Linked DNA regions of Homo sapiens. The protein of the gene in region 1 purifies or fractionates together with the protein of each later gene. This does not show direct contact. Each region holds a gene or a part of one and is shown in the gene's direction. Other genes may lie near its edges.

Region 1 (8,158 bases):
ATCATGTGTTTCTGAGTCGGAAAGGACTGGAGCCCAGTCTCCTTTGAAGACTCAAATCTGAGCCCCCTAAAAAACAAACTGTGTAGAGCAGGAGGAAGACTCACATTTGTTGAGAGGGCCAGGCCCTGGGCTAGGTCAGCTGCCTGAGTTACCTTCCCCCGCCTCCATCACTCACTTCATCCCAGGCACGCTGCCACCTGTTGGTCCCTGGGAAGGGCCAGCCAGCTCTGGTGTGGTTCCAGTGCTGCACAAGTGGTGTGTCTGGAATGCACCCCACACACACACCTTGCCCAGCTGGCTCCCCTTGTCCTTCAGGCACCACCACCCCGCCCCAGCCCCCAGCAATTCAGCCCATCGTACTCTTACAGAAACACCTGGTTTGTTTTTGTTTTTGTTTTTTTAACTATATTATCATTTATTAAATGTAATTAGGTAGCTCTGGATCCTTGGTCTGTTTTTTTTTTCTTTTATTATTATTATACTTTAAGTTTTAGGGTACATGTGCACAATGTGCAGGTTAGTTACATATGTATACATGTGCCATGCTGGTGTGCTGCACCCATTAGCTCATCATTTAGCATTAGGTATATCTCCTAATGCTATCCCTCCCCTCTCCCCCCATCCCACCACAGTCCCCAGAGTGTGATGTTCCCCTTCCTGTGTCCATGTGTTCTCATTGTTCAATTCCCACCTATGAGTGAGAATATGCGGTGTTTGGTTTTTTGTTCTTGCGATAGTTTACTGAGAATGATGATTTCCAATTTCATCCATGTCCCTACAAAGGACATGAACTCATCATTTTTTATGGCTGCATAGTGTTCCATGGTGTATATGTGCCACATTTTCTTAATCCAGTCTATCATTGTTGGACATTTGGGTGGGTTCCAAGTCTTTGCTATTGTGAATAGTGCTGCAATAAACACACGTGTGCATGTGTCTTTATAGCAGCATGATTTATAGTCCTTTGGGTATATACCCAGTAATGGGATGGCTGGGTCAAATGGTATTTCTAGTTCTACATCCCTGAGGAATCGCCACACTGACTTCCACAATGGTTGAACTAGTTTACAGTCCCACCAACAGTGTAAAAGTGTTCCTATTTCTCCACATCCTCTCCAGCACCTGTTGAGAAACACCTGCTTTGAAGTCACATATTGCAGTGTCATGGATTTGTTTGTATTTGAATACTGATCGCTTTCTGACCTTCACTTTCTCCATTAGACTCTAAGCTCCAAGAAGTCAGGGACCTTGTCTGTTTTGCTCCCTACTAGGAGCTTAGTCACAGGCACATAGCAGTTGCTCAATAAATGCTGAATGAATAAGTGAGTGTATCTTGTTGGCACCATTAAGTTAGTAGCTAAGAGCTTGGGCTCCAAGTCAGCAGATGTGGTCCTGACCCAGCAGTGAGTAGCACTGTGATCTCCAGGATGCTGTTTGACCCATCCAAGCCTCAGTTTCCGTTTCTGTAAGAAACAGGATAATTATTATACCTTCCCTGTAGGGCACAATTGGGAGGATTATGAACCATTTCTCAATGGTCCATTTGAGAAAGCATTTAGCACAATGTTTGGCACATGCTAATCAATAGTATGTTAACTGATGTTAACTCATTATTAATCATAGTCTCACAGCTACCATGTGAGTTGCCAAGTCCGTAAAAATCCTTATTTGGCAGATGAAGAAAGAGACTCAGAGCAGGTAATTGACTTGCTCAGGGCTCACAGCAAGTAAGTGATTGAACCAGGCCCCCAGGCGCTGTGACCCCAGACGGCCTATTTTGAGGGGAGCACATCCTATCTCCTGGGCATTACACAAAGCACTTGTGTATTTTTTCCATCTCAATATCCTCAGTGAGATAGACACTATTATCCCTGTTTTATGGATGAGAAAACAGGGTTTAAGGTGAAGCAGTTGCTCACAGATGCCCAGTGAGTCAGTGATAGGATGGGCTCCAAAAAGGGCTCACTGGCTGGGCACGGTGGCTCACGCCTGTAATCCCAGCACTTTGGGAGGCTGAGGTAGGCAGATCGCTTCAGGTCAGGAGTTCGAGATCAGCCTGGCCAACACAGCAAAAACCCATCTCTACTAAAAATACAAACATTAGCCAGGCGTGGTGGCAGGCGCCTGTAATCCCAGCTACTCGGGAGGCTGAGGTAGGAGAATCGCTTGAACCCAGGAGGCAGAGGTTGCAGTGAGCTGAGATCGTGCCACAGCACTCCAGCCTGGGGGACAAGAGCGAAACTCCATCTCAAAAAAACAAAACTAGGCTGACTGCTTACTCCATAACTCTGCCACTGAGCCACATCATTCTCAGAGGTCAGAAAACCACCTTTAGCTTCTGCTGTTTCATGAGGAAGGGAATCTGCAGAAAGGAAACAAAAGCTGAGAGAAAAGAGTGGGGAAGTGGGGTTGATCATTTTGTCTTGTTCCATACTCATGTGTTTTGGGTCTGTTCATTTAAACTGTTTGTGAGCCCACACCTGGTCCATGGAAGGCAGTGAGGCCACGTGCTTGGGAGAGATCCAGACATGGTTGGGACGAGCCTGGCCCCTCCAGGGGTCTCTGGGGCTCCTGGGATTTGAATTCATAATGATCGTGCTTTGGATCTACTTGCAGGGCCCTGGGAAAGAGTCACACCTCTGCCCGTTCTTCTTAAAGGCAGGCTTGGTTCAGGTGTGGACGCTTATGCAGAGGTCTGTTATAGTGGCAGTTGCCACCTGCTGCTTGTGGACACCTTGCCATCATTAGACACACATGCAGCTAGCCTCTGAGGAGGGTGGGGGTTCCAATTCTCCAGGGAAGGATAATGAGGCTCAGAGAGGTTAGATAACAGGCCCAGAGTCACTCAGCTAGTAAGAGGCAATGCAGGGGCCAGGTGCGGTGGCTCATGCCTGTAATCCCAGCACTTTGGGAGGCCAAAGCGGGCGTTCGAGACCAGCCTGTCCAATATGGTGAAACCCCGTCTCTACTAAAAAATACAAAAATTAGCTGGGCGTGCTGGTGTGCACCTGTTGTCCCAGCTGCTCGGGAGGCTGAGGCAGGAGAATTGCTTGAACCCGGGAGAAAGTGAGCTGAGATTGCACCACTGCACTCCAGCCTGGGTGACAGAGTGAGACTCCGTCTCAAAAAAAAAGAAAAAAAAAGAGGCAAAGTAGGACCACGGGAGTCCAAAGCCCAGGCTGTTTTGACTGCGCCAGGTGGGCTTCAGAGGGAAGGGCGCACACTTGGCACGCTCCGTAGCTGGAGAGGTTCAGAGTGGACTTGTTCTTTCTGAGCTCAAGGGCCCAAGCTCCTATGCCCCTTGGCCTGCCCAGCACAGCCCCAGGTGACCCCTCCCCAGCCCCACTCCTCACTGCCACAGTAAAGATGAACATCTGTGTCTTCAGGTGGACCAAGGAGGATTTGGAGCTAATTAACAAGTGGGCCTTCCAAGGGGAGAGAATGATTCACGGGAACCCCTCCGGAGTGGACAATGCTGTCAGCACCTGGGGTAGGTGTGGCCTCAGGTTTATTTTATTGTTGTTATTTTAAAAATTCTTATTACAATGGTAGGTGCCCAAGAGTCTGTGCTGGTTTGGGAGGAATCGAATCAATGGATTCTGGAAAAAATAGCATTTTCCTATTTTGGGGGGAATGGGGAGAAATCTTGGGGCCCTGTCTCACACCCCCTGAATCAGAATCTCCGGGGGTGGAACTGGGGCCTGGGAAGCTGCAGCTTCCACGAGCTCCCCAAGAGAGTTGTAGGTTCAGGATGCAGAGCCGTTGCCGTGGAGTTTGCACACCATCCAGGTGGCCTCCCCTCTGGCAAGAACTCTTGCTTACAGGGCCCAGATGCTGTGTCCTGGGCCCCACCTTCACCATGTGGCTTGTCGGGGGAAGCTGGACAGTCTGGAGGGAGGGGGACCCAGGAATCCAAGGCCTGGCAAGAGCTTCCTGGTGGGGCTTCGGGGACCTTTTGCCCTCCTGCACCTTTTGTAACTGAAGCTGGGCTGACTCATTACTTAGCCTCTTTCCTGAATGGGGCAAAATGAACCCAACCCAAAGTTCAACCTCTCTCCCAAGTAGCACAGATATGTTAGCTTTTCCCACAGCTCTGACCCACTGGTTTTTCTCTTTAGGAGGAGCCCTCCGATACCATCAAGGGAAGATTTCATCCTTAAAGAGGTAACCTGGGGGTGGAGCAGCACATTCAGCCATGGCTGCATTGATGTGTGCAGGGGGCAGAGCTCTGCACCTTTGGGAAGTACCATAGGAGGCAGGTGTCCCTGGCTCTTCATCCCCCAATGTGGCCCTCACAGTGCACTAGCTGCAAGGAAGCAGGGGTGGTGGGGAAGACCTGCTCTCTCCTTCTCCCCTTCAGCTCTTAAATTGCAGAGATATCAGAAAGGGAAAGTCATGCATGGCTGTGCCCGTAGACTCTCAGCTGCTCATTCATTCATTCCTGTATTTGCTTAGTAAACAAGAATCCATTACTTCCTGTGTTCCCGATGATGCTGCACTGGGGCGTAGGAATGGAGAGATGAAGCTTGGGTACAGTTTCCAAGGACTCTCAGTCTGCTTGTGGGGGTGGGGCCAGACACACACAAAAGCCGCCACAGGACAATGTGAGAGTCACCATGATGGAGGCACACAGGGCAGAGGCAGGATGGAAGCGGGAGGGAGGCTTGGGAGGGGCTTGGAGCAGAAGTGACATTTGGAGACTCTCAGCCTGTTTTATGTTTCTGTGTCCCTCCCGCTGGAATCATTGGAATCACAAACGTGCATGTGCGATTTCAGCATTCTCTGTTCTGTTTGCGATTTCAGCATCCTCTGTTCTGTTTGCACCCACGGCAGAATTGTTGGGTGCCTGGAATGAAACGCATGGCAGAGGGGAGCCAGGTGCCTTTTTGACTGTTCCCTAAGCCCTTGATCAAGTTGTGGGGTGGTGTTTGTCCCAGGGCACTTTGCCACCTCCATGGGCCTTTTCGCATCAGTAAGGGTCCTGGGGCTCTCTCCTCTTTACTCAGGGCGGTCTTCATGGATGAGTGGCAGGTCCTGGCCTGCAGCCCCCACCAGCTGGGCCACTCCATTAGTGGCTCAGTAACCTGGCCTGCCACAGCGCCACACCTGGGCCCCCGGCTAGTTCTCTGGGATCTTTCTGTCCCAGCTCAGTCATGCCTCCCTTTCCAAGGCTGTACGTCAGAGTTGTCAGCATTGGCACTATTGAGATTTGGGGCTGGGTTATTCTTTGTGGTGGGGCTGCCCTGTGCATTGTAGCCATCCCCAGCCCCTACCCACTAGATGCCAGTAGCACCCTCAGCGTGGCAATCAAAAACATCTCCAGACATTGCTTAGTGTCCCTTGGGAGGCAGAATCACCCTTGCCGCCGACCTTTGCACTCCGCAGAAGCCAGTAGGAGCGTGGAACAGCTTCCTCGGGTTGCTCCAGCAGTCGTCAGGAGAGCCTCGGGTGCCGAGGTGAAGCTGGTCTGCCACCGCCCCGGATCCATGTGGAACCAGAGCTGGATCATGTGGGGGAGTCTCAAATGCCCGGGCCCCGGCCTGTCTTCAGGAGCCCACGGTCTGATGGGGAAGGCGGTCACTGGAATCGTCAGAGAGAAGACACCTGAAGGGTTGTGAAGCTGCTGTGGGTGACAGTGACAGGCGTCTTAGATCTGGCTGCGAGCCTGGGGAATCATTCATGGAAGTGGTGGCATTTCATTCCTTCAGTGTCTCCTGAGAGCCACTTGTGGCCTAAGCACTGGACTAGGCCCTGGAGCTAGAAAACTGATGAAGACGTGGGCTGGGCACCGAGTGTACGGTCTACTGGGGGCATCAGGAGATGAATGAGGAGGTTTCCAAGGGGGGCGGGCAGGGGAACGGCCAGGGGAATGGCCAGGCGTTGCTGGTGTGCTGGGCGGAGGCGCTGGGTCCACAGGCCTAGGTTTGAGTCCAGCTCTCCCACTTGCCAGCTGGTGCCCTCAGGTGAGTCACTTCTCCCAGACCTCCAGCTCCTTGTTTACTTAGGGGGATCTTGAACATACAATCAGAAGCGGTGGCTCTGAAGTGCTTACCTGTTTGCTGGCCGAGTTCATTCATCCTTTCCACAAGTATCATTAAGCACCTACTGCGTGCTGAGTACTGGGGCCTCCGCAGGGAACAAAACAAAGCCCCGCCTCCGTGGAACTCATACTTTGTTGGGAGAGGAGAAAAAATCAGTTGTCTGTGAGAGCATATCAGGCAGTCTTAAGCACCTTTAGGAAACAAGGCAGGGTCAGAGGCTACAAAGAGAAGGAGGGGTCCGATTGGATGGGGGTTCGGGGGCTGCTGGTGAAGGAACATTGAGCAGAAACCTGAATAAGTCACGCCGCTATGGGGCGGGGCTGGTCCCTGGCAGAGGAAGCGCGGTGCAAAGGTCCTGAGACGAGCACGCTGCCTGCCGTGTGACACAGTAGCTGGGAGGTCAGAGTGGCTGAGTGGAGTGAGCAGCCTGGGGAGCGAGGAGAGAAGAAGAGGCTGGGGCAGTGGCCAAGCCCGGATCACAGGAGCGCTTACCAGGCTTACCCCCTGCGTGGTGGCCGCTGGATGGGTATGAGCCCTGGATCTGGTGGGGCTGGTGACAGGCCTGTCTGCAGAGGACTTGTCTAAGAAAGATGAAGATGCAACACCCAAACTCCTCCCGCCTGGCTAGATGGGAGCATGGAGCAAACCAACCTTTGCTGCCTGCTGTGGGGTGCCACGGGAGCAGATGGCGGCTTCACAGAGAAGCTGGGGGCCAGACTCCACGTTAATCCCATGGATGGCTTAAGGAGCTTCCCCCCACCAACCATGCGTGGTGCCTCTCTGTAAAGAAAAAATGCATTGTTTGTGAAGTGGATCAAGATGCGGCCTCCCAGAACGCTGCCCTTTTGAGGAATGGCTTGTCTTAGAAGGGAAGAGAAAAGCCAAATAGAATGTTCATCTTTTGTAAAGTTAAAAAAAAAAAAAAGCCAGCCTCCAAGGCTGAGAATCGATATTAATTTCATGGGCTTATGGGCAGTGAGATAAAGCAGGTTTCTGGCAGCCCTTTCCAGCCCTATTGGATTTTACAATCTTGAACTGTGAAGACAGCGAATAAAGGTATCAAGGGCTCTGCCCGTCTCCAGCTGTCTCGGGCCAGAGCTCATCCAAATCCCCCACCTTCCATCCCAGCCTGCAGCCCTCTGAAAGGCAGGTTGGATGGCAAGAAATGTCAGCTTGAGCCCTCGAAGACGGCTCACTACAAGGACAGTTGGGATTGTGGCTTTAGGAGGGATTTATGCAGCTCCTCTGGGGCAGGTGAGGACCACGGGGTCATGCTAGAGAGTCAGCTCAACGTGGCTGCCTGGGACACGTCTATGTGCCAGAGGGCAGCCAAGGGGATGACTGACTCTACATCTGGTTTTAGACCAGGGCTGCTCGTCCGGGCACCATTGAGGTAGGGCAAGAATGGGCTCAGCGTGCTGGGGACCATCCTCCTCTGCAACCCTGCCCTCCCTGCATTTACGAGCCCGTGCGTGGCACTGCCCGCACCAGCTAGCCTGGGCATCTTCCCTCTGTGTGATCCATTTCAGGGCCTGTTGCTTGGTCTTTCTAAAACTCCAGCTTCGTGGGGGTGACCCACACAAGTGAACCTTCGCCCCCTCCTTGTACTCTGCTATAGCCACTTTGAATTTCTCACTGGATGACTGTGCCGGGTTCCGCCACCTCCAGGCTCACACAGGCTGCTCCAACTGCCAGAAATCCTCACCCTTCTAGCTTTGCTTGGTGGCTTCTTACCCTTCCTCAGTTCTCAGTGTCCACGTCATGCCAGAAAAACCTTCTCGGCCCTTCTCCCCTATCCCCTCTCTGGCCCCGGCCCCAAGGCCACGCTGTGCCTAGCATGTTGTAGGTCCCAGTTGAAGTTGAATGAATAAATGAGTGAAAAGCCAAGGGAGAATGGCCACCCAACCAGTGCCTGGGATGGAGGCGCAGCTGTGGCCAGCAGCAGAAGCCCCATGCTCCCCCAATCCAGTGTCACCTCTTGTGCCTCCCTTCTTCCTCCGTATCAGGGTGGGCGGCTTCCCGGACTGCTCCCAGTCCTGTCCCAGCTCCTCCATCTTGAGTTCAGTGTGGACCTGCCTCCTCTTCACCCTGCAGGTCGCCAGCTCTCCAGATCCTGC
Region 2 (8,158 bases), about 81 Mb from region 1:
GTGAGACTGGGTTTTCTTTATATACTTCAACTAAAAAACATCATTACAGATTTAACACAGAAGGAAGAAATAAGAATTAATTTAGCTGTCTTCTGTTAAGTCAGATATTAAAGAGATTTACAGACACATACAGTAGCATTTTCCTTTTTTAATTTTAGAAAGTAGTTTTTCATAAAATATATTATTTGTTAATATCATGCAATTATATTAATTTTAAATGAATTAATAATTTTATTTTTTCTTGAATTTCTAATATGTATTAATACATATGATCAACATAAACAAAATCTCTTTGATATCCTCAATAATTTTAAGATTGTAAAGGGATCTTTAGACCATATAGTTTGAAATCTGCTACTCCACCCTAAGGCCTGATTTCTTTGAAGATTAGAAATGCCATGGAAATTAAGTAGGAATATTTGTATAAAAAAGAATAATAGATTTTATTTTGTAGCAGTTATTTACTATGCATAAAAACAGCAATGTTAGAACTAAACACTATAGGATCAAAGTTTTTTATCTTTTAGGTTAACCAAGTCTGTTACTCAAGAAATTATTATGCAGTCTTTCAAATTTGTTCTGGTCTTTATTTATTTTGAAGCTTGAAAAAGAAGCAGTGAAGGATGCAGTTTTAAAAGTCGTAGAAGAAGAAAGAAAAAATTTAGAAAAAGCGCATGCTGAAGAAAGGGAATTATGGAAGACAGAACATGCAAAAGATCAAGAAAAAGTATCTCAGGAAATTCAAAAAGCTATACAAGAACAAAGAAAAATAAGTCAGGTTAGTAATATTAACTGTTAGTAAATATTTACTTTTTTCTCATTTTTCTCAAAATGAAGTACCCTTACTCTATCTTTTATCTTACTTAAAACAACCTTAGTAGATATTTATGACTTTTTAATTTTTAATTTTCATTTTGATGTTTATATTTTGAATTAATCATTTTTAATATTTTAATGTGCTTTCATCTTTCTGATATTGAAAACTTAGTAACTGACCATTTTACCCTTTTACTTTATTTTCTAAAAGGTCAAAACAAAATTTATGTTTAGTCATTGCAAATATATTAACCTTTCTGTGTTGTTTTTCCTTTTCTCATACATAGAGACACATACGCACACATGCACACAGACTCAATCAATACAAAATAATATATTTGTGTAGAAAACAATTTGATTCAATTAATTTATAATTCTAATTTGTAAATCTCTATACCTATAGTTGGTAACAATAATTAATAAAACCTCACAAATATTCCCTATAGTCTCATAAAGATACATAATGATCAACAGGCATGACCTACATGCAGAATAACTTTTGATTGTTTATCTGACAATTAAAAACACTACCTTAGTTTGTTTTTCTGTAATTGAATTTGCACAGTTCTATTTTACTTGAATTAGTCTTTTTATATATATATAGGCAGAAGTACTTAAATAAATCTTCCCTTAAGTATCAAAAGCAAAAGAATAACATTCATAGAAGTCTAACATGTTCAAACTGTTAAATATACTACAATTGTTCATTCACATTATAAATGCAGCTAAAATGACTAACCTTTCAGATCAACCCAGATTTTTTTTATGACTCATTAATCTTAATGAAGCCGTAAAAAGCTCAAAGTTTTTAATATCCAAGATAAAAGTTATATTTTTAAAAGATGTCACTTGTTTATTCTCAGGAACACACAGTTACCCATTTATTACAAAAATTAAACAGATCTGTAGGTACCATCTATGTTAAAATAACAGTAGTACAGTAGCAGATCTTTTTTTTTCTTGCGTTTTTTCACTAAAGCAATATTACCTTCTAATTCTTACCGTAACCTATCAATAAATATATATTGAGTACCTATTGCATATAAAATGTTTGTCACTTCAGTTGGTTGGAATTTCATGCCAGTAAGGTCAAGTTCACTGGCTAAGTTCTTATTCGGGAGAGTTTATTTAAATTTGTTTTATGACCCCGAACATTCCTGTAACCTCACATAGATGTGGGCCATTCATCACTTGAATTGGGTAAGAAGGCATGAAAAAAATCAGCACATATTCGTCATCCTAATGGAAAAATATATATTTTAAAGAGCACACTTCTCTGCTGATTTGTCAAGAGTCTACAAGAAACATGCAGTATATGATACACTACTTTGAAATTTGTCTTCTATAGGTTCAGAATATGGTGAAGACAATCTAAACATGTCTTGAATAAATTATATTAATTTCCTTACAAATGTTTGCACGTTTTGCTAGAAAGTCTCTGCCAAGTTAAATTATATATCTCTGTATCATTTGGGTGGATTTCAGGACATTTATTTCTTTGTTTGGAACATTATTCCTTATTTATTTTTCTTGACTCTATATGTTGGTTTCTATGCATTAGAAATAACAGCTACCTCTCACAGTCTTCACTGACTGGCCTTGTACTGGTGAAGACCCACACCAATCAACCTAATCAGAGATTTTGTGGGCCTCTCAAACCTTTATGCTAATCCAAACTGCTGTGTTTGTTGTTGGCACCGCATAGCTGTCTATAGTACATGGTGTTCCAATGCTTGCAGATAGGTGAGACAGAAGCCAGTCTCCCAGGAGCCCCTGGAAAAATTCGAACTTTGGACACGTAGTCCAGCTCTTTCCCTCCCTAGGGAGAGGCTGCAGTCTGAGGTTTTTTGCCATCTTTCTTGGACTGGGCAGGAGAGTAGGCTATAACAACTGTTTGCTTGTTAATTTAAGCCGCTATCTTTATTCTCACAGGCCCCCAGGCATCAGTAGTATGCCAGGTCCTGTTACGGCTCTGAGATAGGTAAGACAGAAGCGAGTAACCTGGGCAGTTTCTAGAAAGGTTGGTTGGACATGTAATCCAACTTTCTTCCCACCAGAGAAGTTGAGAGCTGTGGGTTTCCTTTGATCATATGGCACTGTACTGGGGATAGGGATTGTGGTGAGAGTTAGGTCTTGAGTTTTCCTACCAGTTTCAGTATAGCCGGTTTCATGCTTGCCCAGGGTGAAGGACCCTTTCAGTTTGTCTCTGGATTTCCCACAAAGGGTATTTGTGCATGCGTCGTTGTAAATTGAGTGTTTCCATGGAAGGACAGAGGATCCAGGGTTTTCCTGTTTCACCTCTTGTTGACATCATCTGGTATTTTAATATTTTTCTAAATTCCCAAGGTAAAGGAAAAAGTAAATGAATAATGTATCTGATTATAATCATTCAAAAAAATGAAAATTATGCTAGTTGTAAAATACCAGCTACAAGAAAAATAGGCATGTAGAAAACATGCAGTAAATATCCTGAAGAGTATACTTCCCAGAAGATGCTTTTTAGGACTTAATTGTATTTGTTGTCCAAAATTTTCAAATAAGTTTATAGATATCATTTATTAATTAATCATATTAGTTTCCTAGGAAAAGCCAATTGGAAAAACTAATATATTACTACAGATTGGTTTGTATAAAGTCCCATGAGCTTAATTAATTACCCTAAATTAGTTTCGTTGCAAGACTAGAAGTATAATTTATAAATAGACTTTACCCCTGGGCTACTAGTGATAGGAATCTGAAATACTGCCTCTTCATTCTGTACATACCCTGGAGGATTTTAACTGAGTTTCACATTTATAATTAATGTCCTTGTTACTTCTTTTAGGGAAAATCCCTCAAATAAAGGGCATTACAAAAGCTGACAGATCATTATCTGATAACAATAAGGGAAACAATAATAGTTCCCCATGTTCAAGTTTCATTAAGTTGCCTTTATTCTAAGCAAATATATTAAGTTAGTTTAGCTAAAAAGGTATTTTTATGTTTTTTTTTTTCTTTGTAGCTTTGCCTGCAGAAAATAATAGCAGTAAGATAATAGCAGAACTGGTGGTGGTGGAGATGGCAATAATTAACAACATTGACTATCATTAATTCTAAGTGCTGAGCACTTTTCTAATTTTTTTAGATGTTTTATGTCAATTCCTCACAATGACCTTATGAAGTAGGTACTATTATTATCCCCATTGTTACAGATGGGGAGACTAAAGCTTACAGAGATTATGTAACTTGTTTTAGGCCATGTGACTTTTTAGAGGAGTCAACAGTCAGTATTCAAATTCAGGCAGTTTAACTCCTGAGGCCTTGTATTTTGCCACTACTCTATTCCATCTCCCTGTGTTCTCATCTTAGTATAAAGTACAGATTTATGTCATTTATCATTTAGTGTTTGAAATGATCCTAGGAAACTGATAGATAAGTTCTATAGGCAAAACTTTAAGAAGGTGTTATTTTTATGTATTGTCCATTCTGTAACATTTATGGCGCCTCTGCCATGTTTTGGCACTGTTACACGTTTCTGACACACAACATTAAGCAAGATAGTCAAGGCCCCTGTGCTTTCACAGAGCTTACATTCAAGTTGGAAAAGAGCTATGATAAGCAAATCATGCCGTGTGGTGCTGTGGGCTAGGAAGAAAAAGTTTGGGGTTATATATTTAGCTGATAATGGTTGTAGGGGATTTCTTTAGACAATATAGTTAGGAAAGAAGCCAAACTCAGTAAATTTTCATTTCATATAAGTCAATTTATATGAAATTCTAGGGAAGACAAAAGTGATATGAGAGAAGACACATCAGTAGTTACAATAACTGAGGGCAGGGGAATTTTTTGAGGGCGATGATAATGTTTTATGTCTTGATTGTGATAGCGCTTATATTTGACAAAACATATCAAATTACACACTTAATATTTGTGAAAATTATATGTAAGTAATACCTTAATAGAGCTGATTTTTAAAAAACAAATGACTATCAGAATAACTGACTGGATGGATGGTGATTTTGGATGTAATTTCATTTACTGAGGTGAGAAAAGGTTAAGTTTCATGGGGTTAAAAAATCTAATTTGTGTGTATTAAATGTGTGATGCTTATTCATGAGCCTAGAGGAAATGTTGAGTAGGCAGTTAGAAATATAGAAATGGAATTCAGGGGAGTTGTCAGGCCTGGAGATAGAAATTTTGGATTAATAAGCATATAGTTGTTATTTAAAGCCAAATAAATAAAAAGGAAATAATTTCTAGATAGGGTTCTATGACATTCTTTTATGGATTGTGTCCATCTTCTACCTAGAAAGAATATGGCCACTTTAGATTAACTGTAAATAGTTTCACACGTAACAGTTTTACTTCAGATGAAATAATGAAAGTGTTAAAGTTATTGGTGCTGTCTGTGTCACCCTGTAACCCATGATTGAGTAGCCAGGCATTCATCCAGACTTTCTAGGAAGCTCAGGTCACCACTACGAACAACAGCTTCTGCCACTTTCTGCTGAGCCCCAGCCTAGATGCAGAAGTCAGTGCTCATTCTGTCTTTTAGGTGTTTGGCAGCTAGTTGGGATACATAGACCTGAAGAGCCTCTCTCCAGGGACCTACAAACTGTTTTGAGTATTAACTGAAGGGACTGACTTTTTAAAAGCTTGGAAGCCGTTTTTGAATTCTAAGGTTTAGGTCACTTCACAGCACTCAAATGTTCTTTTAAAGAAAACTAAAAAGCAACCATAATTAATAGCAGTTAATATCTTTCTTTGTCTACTAAGTCACAGTAGAAATTAGGAAATGATCTAGTATGGCAACACAAAAACATTGTGCAACTTAAGCCACTTCAATTATTCCTGAGAAATGAAAAGGGAAAAATCAGCTTCTGCTTTAGAATTTACCTCCAGATTTCCTCTCTGCTAGTACTGGCATTTACTGAGGAGATAAATGTTAAACTATGACAGAAAACCGAGTACCTAAGGATTGTGGTAGATAATTCTCAGAATTTACTTGAGAGATGTTTTCCTTTGGCCTTGATCGTAAGTTAAGACTAAGTCTTAGTGTTGATTGTAAATTGTACTTTTTTTCTGAGATAATAAGAGGAAAATTTATGACCCTGGCTTATTGATTTTCATATTAAATTAATTCTGGGTCACTTAAAAGTCTTTGTTAAGTAAAGGAAAAGACGTTTGTTATTGACACCAAAGTAGGCAAAAAGAGGATAGTCATTAATTTTGCTGTTCTAGCAAAATCCTGTAAAAGAACTCCAGTGCACACAGACACTCAAACTATGTCTGACGTTGGAAGCTCTTCATAATGGTTTATAACCACAGCCACTGTAATTTGGGGTTATGTTTTCCCGAGAAGCCACAGACATTACAATCAGTGGTTAAATTTTCCTTAAGAAATTTAGTACTGCCACCTGACCCTTCTTTTAAAAAAGGAAATAGCATTTCTATTTTAGCTTAGCAGGCTATTTTCACAACCCTGAAATTTTTCTGTGCTGACTTCTTTAGTTTTGATTCATTCATTCATTTTAAATTTTTTATTTACAATACTTTGATAATAATCTAGATGATAATAAAATCATAATGACATTTTAAATTATCAAATGTATCATATCTATAGAGAAATTATACCTTTTCATCTAAGTCCTTTTTTCCTTCTATTATATTTTTTTCAGTTATAGTCATTCAGTGAGATGTCTGTAATACAACATCTGCCAAGTTTTTCAGTCCAGAGAATGAGAATTCATCCTAGATTTTCCCTTTTGTCCTCATTTGCACACCTTTTTTTTTTTTTTTTTTTTTTTTTTTTTTTTAAGATGGAGTCTCACTCTGTCGCCCAGGCTGGATTGCAGGGGTGCTATCTTAGCTCACTGCAACCTCCCCCTCCTGGTTTCAAGCAATTCTTCTGCCTCAGCCTCCTGAATAGCTGCAACTACAGGTGCACACCACCACACCTGGCTAATTTTTGTATTTTTAGTAGAGATGGGGTTTCACCATATTGGCCAGACTCAAATTACTGGTCTCAAACTACTGACCTTGTAATCCACCCACCTCACATCTTTTTAATTATCAGAACCTTTCCATTTTACCTGAAAAATAATCCTTAAACATATACACTTACTTCAAACCTGTTATCTTTGTCTCAATATTCTTATTGCTTACCTTGACCTCTTATGTAGACTTCTTTACCTCCAGTTTTGTGCCTTTTCAACTTGGAGTGAAAAATGGATATCATTCTCCCACTTTAAATTCTTCCAGTGCCTCCCTGTAGCCTATAAGATAAAAGATAAGATAAAAGTTCAAACTACTTAGCATAAAATATACATCTTTCATTGACCTGGTCTTTACCTGTCTAGCTCGTCTGCTGCTGCTCTGTTTCACATTTCATGCTTTTAGAACCAAGTGGCTGGTACACATAGTGGGCTATTTTATGGTCTTGGGCCTTGGTTCATACTGCACCATCAGCCTAGAATCCCATTGCTTCCTGACTGGCAAAACCCACTCTTATTTCATAATTCTTCATTTTTACCCTCCATAAAACTTTTATTTCCTCCCTGCAGATTAAATCAAGTGCTCCTCTTGAGCATTCAGTATATAACTGTACCACTGCTCAGCCATATTATTATAAAAAGACCTGTTTCTATGTCTTCTCCAATAGATTATGAGCACCTTGAAAGGAGGAGCTGAGTATTAACAAACTGCAATAGATTATAATATATAGGACCAGCACTGTTTTAAGGAGACATACTAATCTTTAAAAAATCAACTGGGTCTCCAACAACACAATTTGGCTCTTAGAGTTTTGGTAGCTTTTAATTGGAACATTTTACCAAGATTAGAGTTATTTAAAATAGTGCTTCGGATGTTATTATCCCCTTTTTAAAGAAGTATTCATCACACTGTCAGTTGGATGCCAAACTGAACTGATTCTTATTATTGTTACTCAATGAAAAACTTGGAAAATACTCTGAGAGGTCAAGGATAATTACTTTCAGCTTCAGAAAAATGTTTACTTTGAACGACTAGTATATATTTGCTCTACAGTGATGAATGGCTGCATGAATACAAGTAGAATTTTTAGGTCATAGTAAAGTAGTACACTCTCTCTCACTGGTCAAACGGAAGCATTACATTCAACTATACCATTCATGTAGATTCAAAAGATACCATGTTTTAAAAGACACATTTCCAAATCAGAATGAGAATGTCTTAGACATTCATTTGTACCTCCTCAGCATCTATTCCTCTGTTCCCAATGTGATAGTTTATTTTTTAGCGATGTGGTTTAGAGGAAATTTAACCTACTTTCTAATTTACATATAGGTACTTGTTGATCTAGGCTAATAATTATTTTCCATCC

The links.
Region 2: the proteins of MVK (region 1) and CCDC91 purify together in Homo sapiens (affinity purification with mass spectrometry; 3 studies listed by BioGRID and IntAct, with this or other methods). This does not show direct contact.

Annotation. Positions count from the first base shown.
Region 1 is NC_000012.12:109,582,636-109,590,793, forward strand, and holds part of MVK (mevalonate kinase), read left to right. Parts: intron 1-3,386; coding exon 3,387-3,490; intron 3,491-4,118; coding exon 4,119-4,164; intron 4,165-4,455; coding exon of another isoform or gene 4,456-4,530; intron 4,531-8,135; coding exon 8,136-8,158. UniProt on the Homo sapiens protein: Catalyzes the phosphorylation of mevalonate to mevalonate 5-phosphate, a key step in isoprenoid and cholesterol biosynthesis.
Region 2 is NC_000012.12:28,451,877-28,460,034, forward strand, and holds part of CCDC91 (coiled-coil domain-containing protein 91), read left to right. Parts: intron 1-601; coding exon 602-778; intron 779-8,158. UniProt on the Homo sapiens protein: Involved in the regulation of membrane traffic through the trans-Golgi network (TGN). Functions in close cooperation with the GGAs in the sorting of hydrolases to lysosomes.